Linked DNA regions of Homo sapiens. The protein of the gene in region 1 purifies or fractionates together with the protein of each later gene. This does not show direct contact. Each region holds a gene or a part of one and is shown in the gene's direction. Other genes may lie near its edges. The genes, in order: ACAP1 and RAB11FIP3.

Evidence for each region.
Region 2: the proteins of ACAP1 (region 1) and RAB11FIP3 purify together in Homo sapiens (affinity purification with western blotting, with the first as the bait; one study listed by BioGRID). This does not show direct contact.

What each region holds. Positions count from the first base shown.
Region 1 is NC_000017.11:7,334,798-7,338,705, forward strand, and holds the start of ACAP1 (arf-GAP with coiled-coil, ANK repeat and PH domain-containing protein 1), read left to right. Parts: upstream 1-1,731; 5' UTR 1,732-1,937; coding exon 1,938-1,990; intron 1,991-2,465; exon of another isoform or gene 2,466-2,514; coding exon 2,515-2,572; intron 2,573-3,908. UniProt on the Homo sapiens protein: GTPase-activating protein (GAP) for ADP ribosylation factor 6 (ARF6) required for clathrin-dependent export of proteins from recycling endosomes to trans-Golgi network and cell surface.
Region 2 is NC_000016.10:481,007-484,814, forward strand, and holds part of RAB11FIP3 (rab11 family-interacting protein 3), read left to right. Parts: intron 1-1,518; coding exon 1,519-1,730; intron 1,731-3,808. UniProt on the Homo sapiens protein: Downstream effector molecule for Rab11 GTPase which is involved in endocytic trafficking, cytokinesis and intracellular ciliogenesis by participating in membrane delivery. Recruited by Rab11 to endosomes where it links Rab11 to dynein motor complex.

The sequences.
Region 1 (3,908 bases):
GGATGGTGAGAACCTGGGCAGGCCAGCCTAGGGGGCAGGAGGGCTGGGAATGCACAGCCTGATGGGTACCCGAGCCCTGATCCCTGATTCTAGGCTCCACAAGCTTGACCTAGGTGATTGAGAACCCCGTAAGCACTGAAGTCCACCTACTGGACCACATGGGAGGCCCCTTTAGGGATCACAAGGCCACGGAGAGCTCCCTGATGGCAACAATGACAACATTGCAGCCTGTTGAGGGCACCAGGCCACCATCTCCCTGGGGCTGTCTCTTGGCAAGCTCCCATCTCCCAGCCCTCCAATTCTTTCAGGCCAGTACATCAGCAACAGGTGGAAGGAGAGGCCCTGAACAGCCTCAAGTCCAAGGTCCACATTGGACAGGCGAGGAACCAGGGAGACTCAGAGGCGGTTGGGACCCCCTCCAGCTTGGCACCACACACTGGCTCCATGCCTCCTCCTTCACTCCTCTGCCACACCACCCCACTCCAGGTATTTCTCTGTCCTCCAAAGACAGTGAGTCTCAAGTGGTGTCCAGCTGGTGGCTGGGGGGCTGAGCTGGCAAAGCCCAAGGAGTTCAGAGAGGGAGAGTGGAAGCAACCCCAACTCCTCAAGCCAGAACAAGCACAGCCTGGCACACTGAGCCTGGGCAGAGGCAAGGGGATGCATACACTGGCCAGGGAGGTAGAGGAGCTGAGTGGGGAGGTTCTAGGGGATCCAGAGTCACATGGACAAGATCTCATGCCTGCTACGAGAAAGCCATGAACTCAAACTCTTCTCTCCAGATGAAACCCTGGGACTTCAATGGACTCAAGAAAAGGAAAGCAAACAATGGAAAATGGGGCTGGTTGGGGGCGGAGTGGGGGCAACCTTCCCTTCATGACCACCCTATGAATAGAAATAAAGAGCAGAAGAGCAAGAGTCTGGGAGCTGTGAATCGGGTGCTCAGGCTGGGCCTGCTCAGTCGTTGAGGAGAGGGGAGGAGGAAGGGGAGTTCACACACAGGAACCATGAATATGACGGCAAAACGAAGAAAGCTGGGAGCAGTCCGGGGTACTGGACTCCACAGGAGCAGGCCCAAGCTGTAGCAGGATGACAATGACTGATGCAATTAATATAGTGAACCAGCTGGGCACAGTGGCTCACGCCTGTAATCCTAGCACTTTGGGAGGCCGAGGTGGGTGGATCACCTGAGGTCAGGAGGTCGAGACAAGTCTGACCAACAAGGTGAAACCCCGTCCCTACTGAAAATACAAAAAGTTAGCCGGGCATGATGGCAGGAGCCTGTAGTCCCAGCTACTCGGGAGGCTGAGACAGGAGAATTGCTTGAACCCAGGAGGCGGAGGTTGTAGTGAGCCGACATCGCGCCACTGCACTGCAGCCTGGGCGATGGAGGGAGACTCCGTCTCATAAATAAATAAATTTAGTGAACCATGAATTTACTGCTATCACCTTCTTCACTTCGTACAGCCCTGGAGGAAGGGGTTATCATTCCCATCTTCCAGATGAGAAAACTGAGGAATCAGAGAGCTCGTCCAGGGGCACATAACCTCTAAGTGACAGAGCCAGGATTTGAACCTAGATCTGCCAGGCCCCCAAGATAACCACGAAGAGAGAAAGAAACAGAGGCTAGAGCCCCAGGAGGAAGGAGCTGGCAGATCGTCTCTGAGGGTGGGGCTGTGGCTTCTCTGATCTCAGGCCCCCATCCTCCGCCCAGGCCCCGCCCCTGCCCCTCCCAGCACTGCCTGGAAGTGTGGGGTGAGAGCTCCTCCTAGGACACCCCTTTCCCCTTGGGGAAAGAATTGTGCCCCCAGGCCCTTCCCCGCGGAGGTCCCTCTCCTCCTTCCCCCTCATCTCCCCTTCCTGGGACAGAAAGTGCCTCCACCTGCATCCCCAGGGGCCCGGCCTCCAGGGCCCGCTGGCCCCACAGCAGGCAAGCTGAGATGACGGTCAAGCTGGATTTCGAGGAGTGTCTCAAGGACTCACCCCGTTTCCGGTAAGTGTGAACTGGTCTGGGGGGCTAAGGAGGGGAAAGTCTAACACCCCCAGCACACACACACCTTTCCCCAGGCCAGGTCTCCTTCCAGGGAGCAGGCCTCTAAGAGGCAGGAGCGAGCCTGTGGGCCAAAGTGGTACCCCAGCTGTGAAAGCAGGGTACTCCAATGCTCTCTGCCCCTGCATGCTCCTCCTGGCCTCTGCAGTTTCCCTCACCCCTAGAGCTGGCATTCCCTCTGGCCTCTCAGTGGGACCCCTGCCCCTCCCCCAGCACCTGCTCTGGGGCGGTTAGCAACTTCCTGCCCTGGCCACATCCACCCTCCTTCTACCCTTCCTGCTCTGGCCTGGGCTGTGGTAGCTCCCAGACTGCAGAGCGGGCAGAGCACAAGTAGGTGGGTGGGGGGCGAGCCTCTCAACTCTGCAGCTTTCTCCTCCGTACCCACCGCCCTGCGACTCCATCCCGCCTGATGAGGCAGACAGACCAGATGGACCCAAGCTCTCTTCCCATGACCCCCTCTTTCCCAGAGCCTCTATTGAGCTGGTGGAAGCCGAAGTGTCAGAATTGGAGACCCGTCTGGAAAAGGTGACCCTGACATGGAGAGGTGACCCAGGAGTGGATTAGGTTGAGAGGGGTAGGGCCAGGGAGAAAGCTGGAGACACAGAATGCATCCCAGGGATTATTGAATACTGTGTAGGGGAGATATTTTGGAGACTGCAGAGAAGCAAAAAAGGTGGTTCTGTACCGACAAGAAGCTCAGGATCTTGGAAAACAAGACTTACTTTTGGGCCAGGCATGGTAGCTCATGCCTGTAATCCCAGCACTTTGGGAGGCCAAGGTGAATGGATCACCTGAGGTCAGGAGTTCTAGACCAGCCTGGCTAACATGGCGAAACCCCATCTCTACTAAAAATGCAAAAATCATCCAGGCTTAGTGGCACCCATCTGTAGCTCCAGCTACTCAAGAGGCTGAGGCAGAGGAATCACTTGAACCTGGGAGGCGGAGGTTGCAGTGAGCCAAGATCGCACCACTGCACTCCAGGCTAGGCGACAGAGCGAGACTCTGTGTCAAAAAAAAAAAGACTTAATTTTGGACTTCCTTGTTCTGCTCTTGAGCTCCTGCATTGTGCCAGGCCCTGGGCATTCAGGGAGGACAAGATCATTTCTGCTCCCACGGAGCCCAAAGGCTGACTAGAAGACAAACCAGTGAAACGTTTCAATTCAAGACAGTAAGGTGTCCCCTGAGCACTCTATCAAACAGCATGTTCACACAAATACACACTCAAATGCTCTCTCATTCCCCTTACTTCGCTTTACTTTTCTCTGCAACATTTACCTCTGACACATTATGTATTTGCTTGCTATATATTAGTTCTCTATTGCTGTGTAACAAATTGTCACAAATTTAGTGGGCAACATTGTTTTATGGGCAACATGGTGAGACCTCATCTCTACAAATAATAATTTTATTTTTATTTTTATTTATTTGAGATGGAGTCTCGCTCTGTCACCCAGGCTGGAGTGCAGTGGTGCGATCTCGGCTTACTGGAACCTCCACCTCCCAGGTTCAAGTGATTCTCCTACCTCAGCCTCCCAAGTAGCTGGGATTACAGGTGTGCACCACCACACCTGGATAATTTTTTTTCTTTTTGTATTTTTAGTAAAGACAGGGTCTCACCATGTTGGCTAAGCTGGTCTTGAACTCCTGACCTCAAATGATCTACCTGCCGCAGCCTCCCAAAGTGCTGGCATTACAGGCTTAAGCCACCGCACCCGGCCTACAAATAATAATTTTAAACAATGGACTGGATGGAGTGGCCACAGCTGTGATCCCAGATGCTTCAATACTGGGCTCAAGTGATCCTCCCTCCTCAACCTCCCCAGTAGCTGTGCTACAGGCACATGCCACCACGCCTGGCTTT
Region 2 (3,808 bases), on another chromosome or scaffold:
CCATATTGGTCAGGCTGGTCTCGAACTCCCAACCTCAGGTGATCCTTCTGCCTCGGCCTCCCAAAGTGCTGGGATTACAGTCGTGAGCCATTGCGGCCAGCTGTTATATTTATTTTTAATTAATTAATTTTTTTGAGATGGGTCTTTATCACTCAGGTTGGAGCACAGTGGTGTGATCACATCTCACTGCAGCCTCGACCTTTTGGGCTCAAATGGTCCTCCTGGCTGGCGCTGTGGCTCACTCTTGTAATCCCAGCACTTTGGAAGGCTGAGGTGGGTGGATCACCTGAGGTAAGGAGTTTGAGACCAGCCTGGCCAACATGGTGAAACCCCGTCTCTACTAGAAATACAAAACTTAGCTAGGCATGATGGTACATGCTTGTCTTCCCAGCTACTCAGGAGGCTGAGGCAGGAGAATCACTTGAACACAGGCCACGTAGGTTGCAGTGAGCTGAGATCATGCCACTGCGTTCCAGTCTGGGCGATAAGAGTGAGACCCTGTCTCAAAAAAAAACCCCCAAAAAACAAAAAGCAAGCTCCTCCGTCAGTCTCTTGAGTAGCTGGGACCTACAGGCAGGTGCCACCACACCTGGGCAAGCTCCTCCGTCAGTCTCTTGAGTAGCTGGGACCTACAGGCAGGTGCCACCACACCTGGGCAAGCTCCTCCGTCAGTCTCTTGAGTAGCTGGGACCTACAGGCAGGTGCCACCACACCTGGGCAAGCTCCTCCGTCAGTCTCTTGAGTAGCTGGGACCTACAGGCAGGTGCCACCACACCTGGGCAAGCTCCTCCGTCAGTCTCTTGAGTAGCTGGGACCTACAGGCAGGTGCCACCACACCTGGGCAAGCTCCTCCGTCAGTCTCTTGAGTAGCTGGGACCTGCAGGCCGGTGCCACCGCACCTGGGCAAGCTCCTCCGTCAGTCTCTTGAGTAGCTGGGACCTGCAGGCAGGTGCCACCGCACCTGGGCAAGCTCCTCCGTCAGTCTCTTGAGTAGCTGGGACCTGCAGGCAGGTGCCACCGCACCTGGGCAAGCTCCTCCGTCAGTCTCTTGAGTAGCTGGGACCTGCAGGCAGGTGCCACCGCACCTGGGCAAGCTCCTCCATCAGTCTCTTGAGTAGCTGGGACCTGCAGGCAGGTGCCACCGCACCTGGGCAAGCTCCTCCGTCAGTCTCTTGAGTAGCTGGGACCTACAGGCAGGTGCCACCACATCTAGGTAAGTTTTGTATTTTTGGTAGAGACAAATTTCACTTTGTTGGCCAGGCTGGTCTTGAGCTCCTGGGTTCAAGCGATCCACCCACCGAGGCCTCCGAAAGTACTGGGATTACAGGCGTGAGTCACCGCGCCCAGCCTGAATTGTGTTTTATAAGTAATGTCTCTGCTTAGAGACAGTTGGGACTTCAGGCGTCAGACCCCTCCCTCCACACTGCCCTCTCCAGGGCCTTGCAGCAGTGAGGTGTGGGGCGTTCGCAGTTCCCCTCCCAGCTTGTGCCCGCTGACTGCTGGCGCACTCTCTCCTAGGCCAACGAGGTGACGGACAGCGCGTACATGGGCTCCGAGAGCACCTACAGTGAGTGTGAGACCTTCACGGACGAGGACACCAGCACCCTGGTGCACCCTGAGCTGCAACCTGAAGGGGACGCAGACAGTGCCGGCGGCTCGGCCGTGCCCTCTGAGTGCCTGGACGCCATGGAGGAGCCCGACCATGGTGCCCTGCTGCTGCTCCCAGGCAGGTCTGTACCCCGCCACGGGCCTCCTGGAGAGGCCTTGGGATGTGGCACCCTGTGGAGGTGTCTGATGGGCAGACTGGGGTCTTGGAGGAGTGCGTGCTGGTTAGCATCCATTATGTGGGGGTGGGGCTTGGCCCTGCAGTAGCTCCTGACCTTCCTGGGATGAGCCCACACCGTCCTGCCCGCCTTGCCCGAGCAGTCTCCCTGTTCCAGCTGACTTTCCTGTCAGGACGACTGTGGTTTCAAATGTTGCTCAACATCTTTAGCTGTAGAGATAGAAATTATAGAAGTGAATGTCTCGGCAGGGTTTTGGAACCCGTTCACCTTTGCAGCACCCCTGAGGAGGCCATGTTCTCTCCCCACCTGTCCCCCACCCTCAGGATTTCTGTAGCCCCCGTATTTCGAGCTAGTTGGGGCCGGAGTAGAGGGACGGGCAGAGTCTGGGAGAAGGTCAGATGAAGGAGGTGTCCAGTGGCTCACGTGGACCTGCTTTCCGTGTTGCCCCTGCTACTGGAAAGTCCGCTCAGCACGCTGAAGTGTAATTGTGAAGCAAAAATTAAATTCTCAGCCTTCAGCCAACTGATGGACCCCCTCTCTCAGCCTCAGGCGTTGCTCAGTCAACCTGAAAATGTAGTTCAGGCCATGGTTAGGGAGGTCAGGCAGGCCTCATTGGGCCCCTCCCTTTGGAACTGAGGCCCAGCTGACCAGCATTCACATTAAACAGACTCTGACAAAGGCGGACTTTTTATAGCAGCGACAGCACACCACATTCCAGCCTGACTCTAGTGTAGCATCACATGACAGGTGGCAGGCCCTGAAAGAAATCCGAGTATTTTACCCCAAAATAGATTTCTTTGACATTTTTCAGAATGGCTCTACAGGACTGTGTCTTGTGGGGAAAGTCTGCACCCTGTAGAGAATCTCCTCCCTTCCCAGGTCTTTTCCCTGGTGCAGGAGGGAATTAACTCGGAGTCTGGCACCTTGTGAGGTCTGCTGCCTGCTGCCTGGAGGCCTCATCTGCTTGATAAAGCCTTGGTCTCCACAGCCCCTTATCTTAAGCCGAGGCATTCCTTTCTATTGATTCCAAGTCTTTAGATAATAACTCTTTCAAACAAACAACTGCCAGTCAGAAGATCTTCGCATCTGCTTTGACCTGGAAGCCCGCCCGTCCCCCGCTTAGAGCCGTCCCATGTTTCCTGACTGAAGCAGCATCTTGCATGTAGGGTTGATGTCTTCTGTCTCCCCAAGATGCATAAACCCGGCCCTTGGGCACATGCTCTCAGGGCTTCCTGGGGCGGCATCACGGGCTGTTAGTCACTCTTATCTGGCTCAGAATAAACCTCTTCAAATATTTTACAGAGCTTAAGTCTTTTTGCCAACATAATATACCCACAAGTAAGTGCCCATGTTGTAAGTGCACAGCCAGCAGGTTTTTCAAACTGACCATTCCCACGGCCCTTTTCTCAGGCAAGAACAAAACACTCCCGCACCCAGGGTCCTCCCAGGCCCCTGACAGCAGCCAGCTCTCCACCGGCCCTGCATCTTCCTTAAGTTCCCCCACACAGGGAGGTCCTTCCTGTGCCTGGCTTCTTCCACTTGCTGTTGCGCTTGTGGATTTAGCCATTTTTTTTTTTTTGAGACGGAGTCTCGCTCTGTCGCCCAGGCTGGAGTGCAGTGGTGCGATCTCAGCTCACTGCAGCCTCCGCCTCCCAGGTTCCAGCGATTCTCCTGCCTCAGCCTCCCGGGTAGCTGGGATTACAGGCGCCCGCCACCACGCCCGGCTAATATTTGTATTTTTTAGTAGAGACGGGGTTTCACCATGTTGGTCAGGCTGGTCTCCAACCCCTGGCCTCAGGCGATCCGCCCGCCTCGGCCTCCCGAAGTGCTGGGATGAGAGGTGTGAGCCACCGCGTCTGGCCGTATTCAGCCCTATTTTTGTGCATTGCTGTAAACTGTTGACTTTTATGATTCTATTGCGAGAGCGTGCTGCGACTCTAGAGTTGACTCTCCTGTCGGCGGCAGCGGGTAGTTCACTGTCGTTGGCTTTGAGGGTGAAACTGCTGTAGGGATTCCATGTCTTT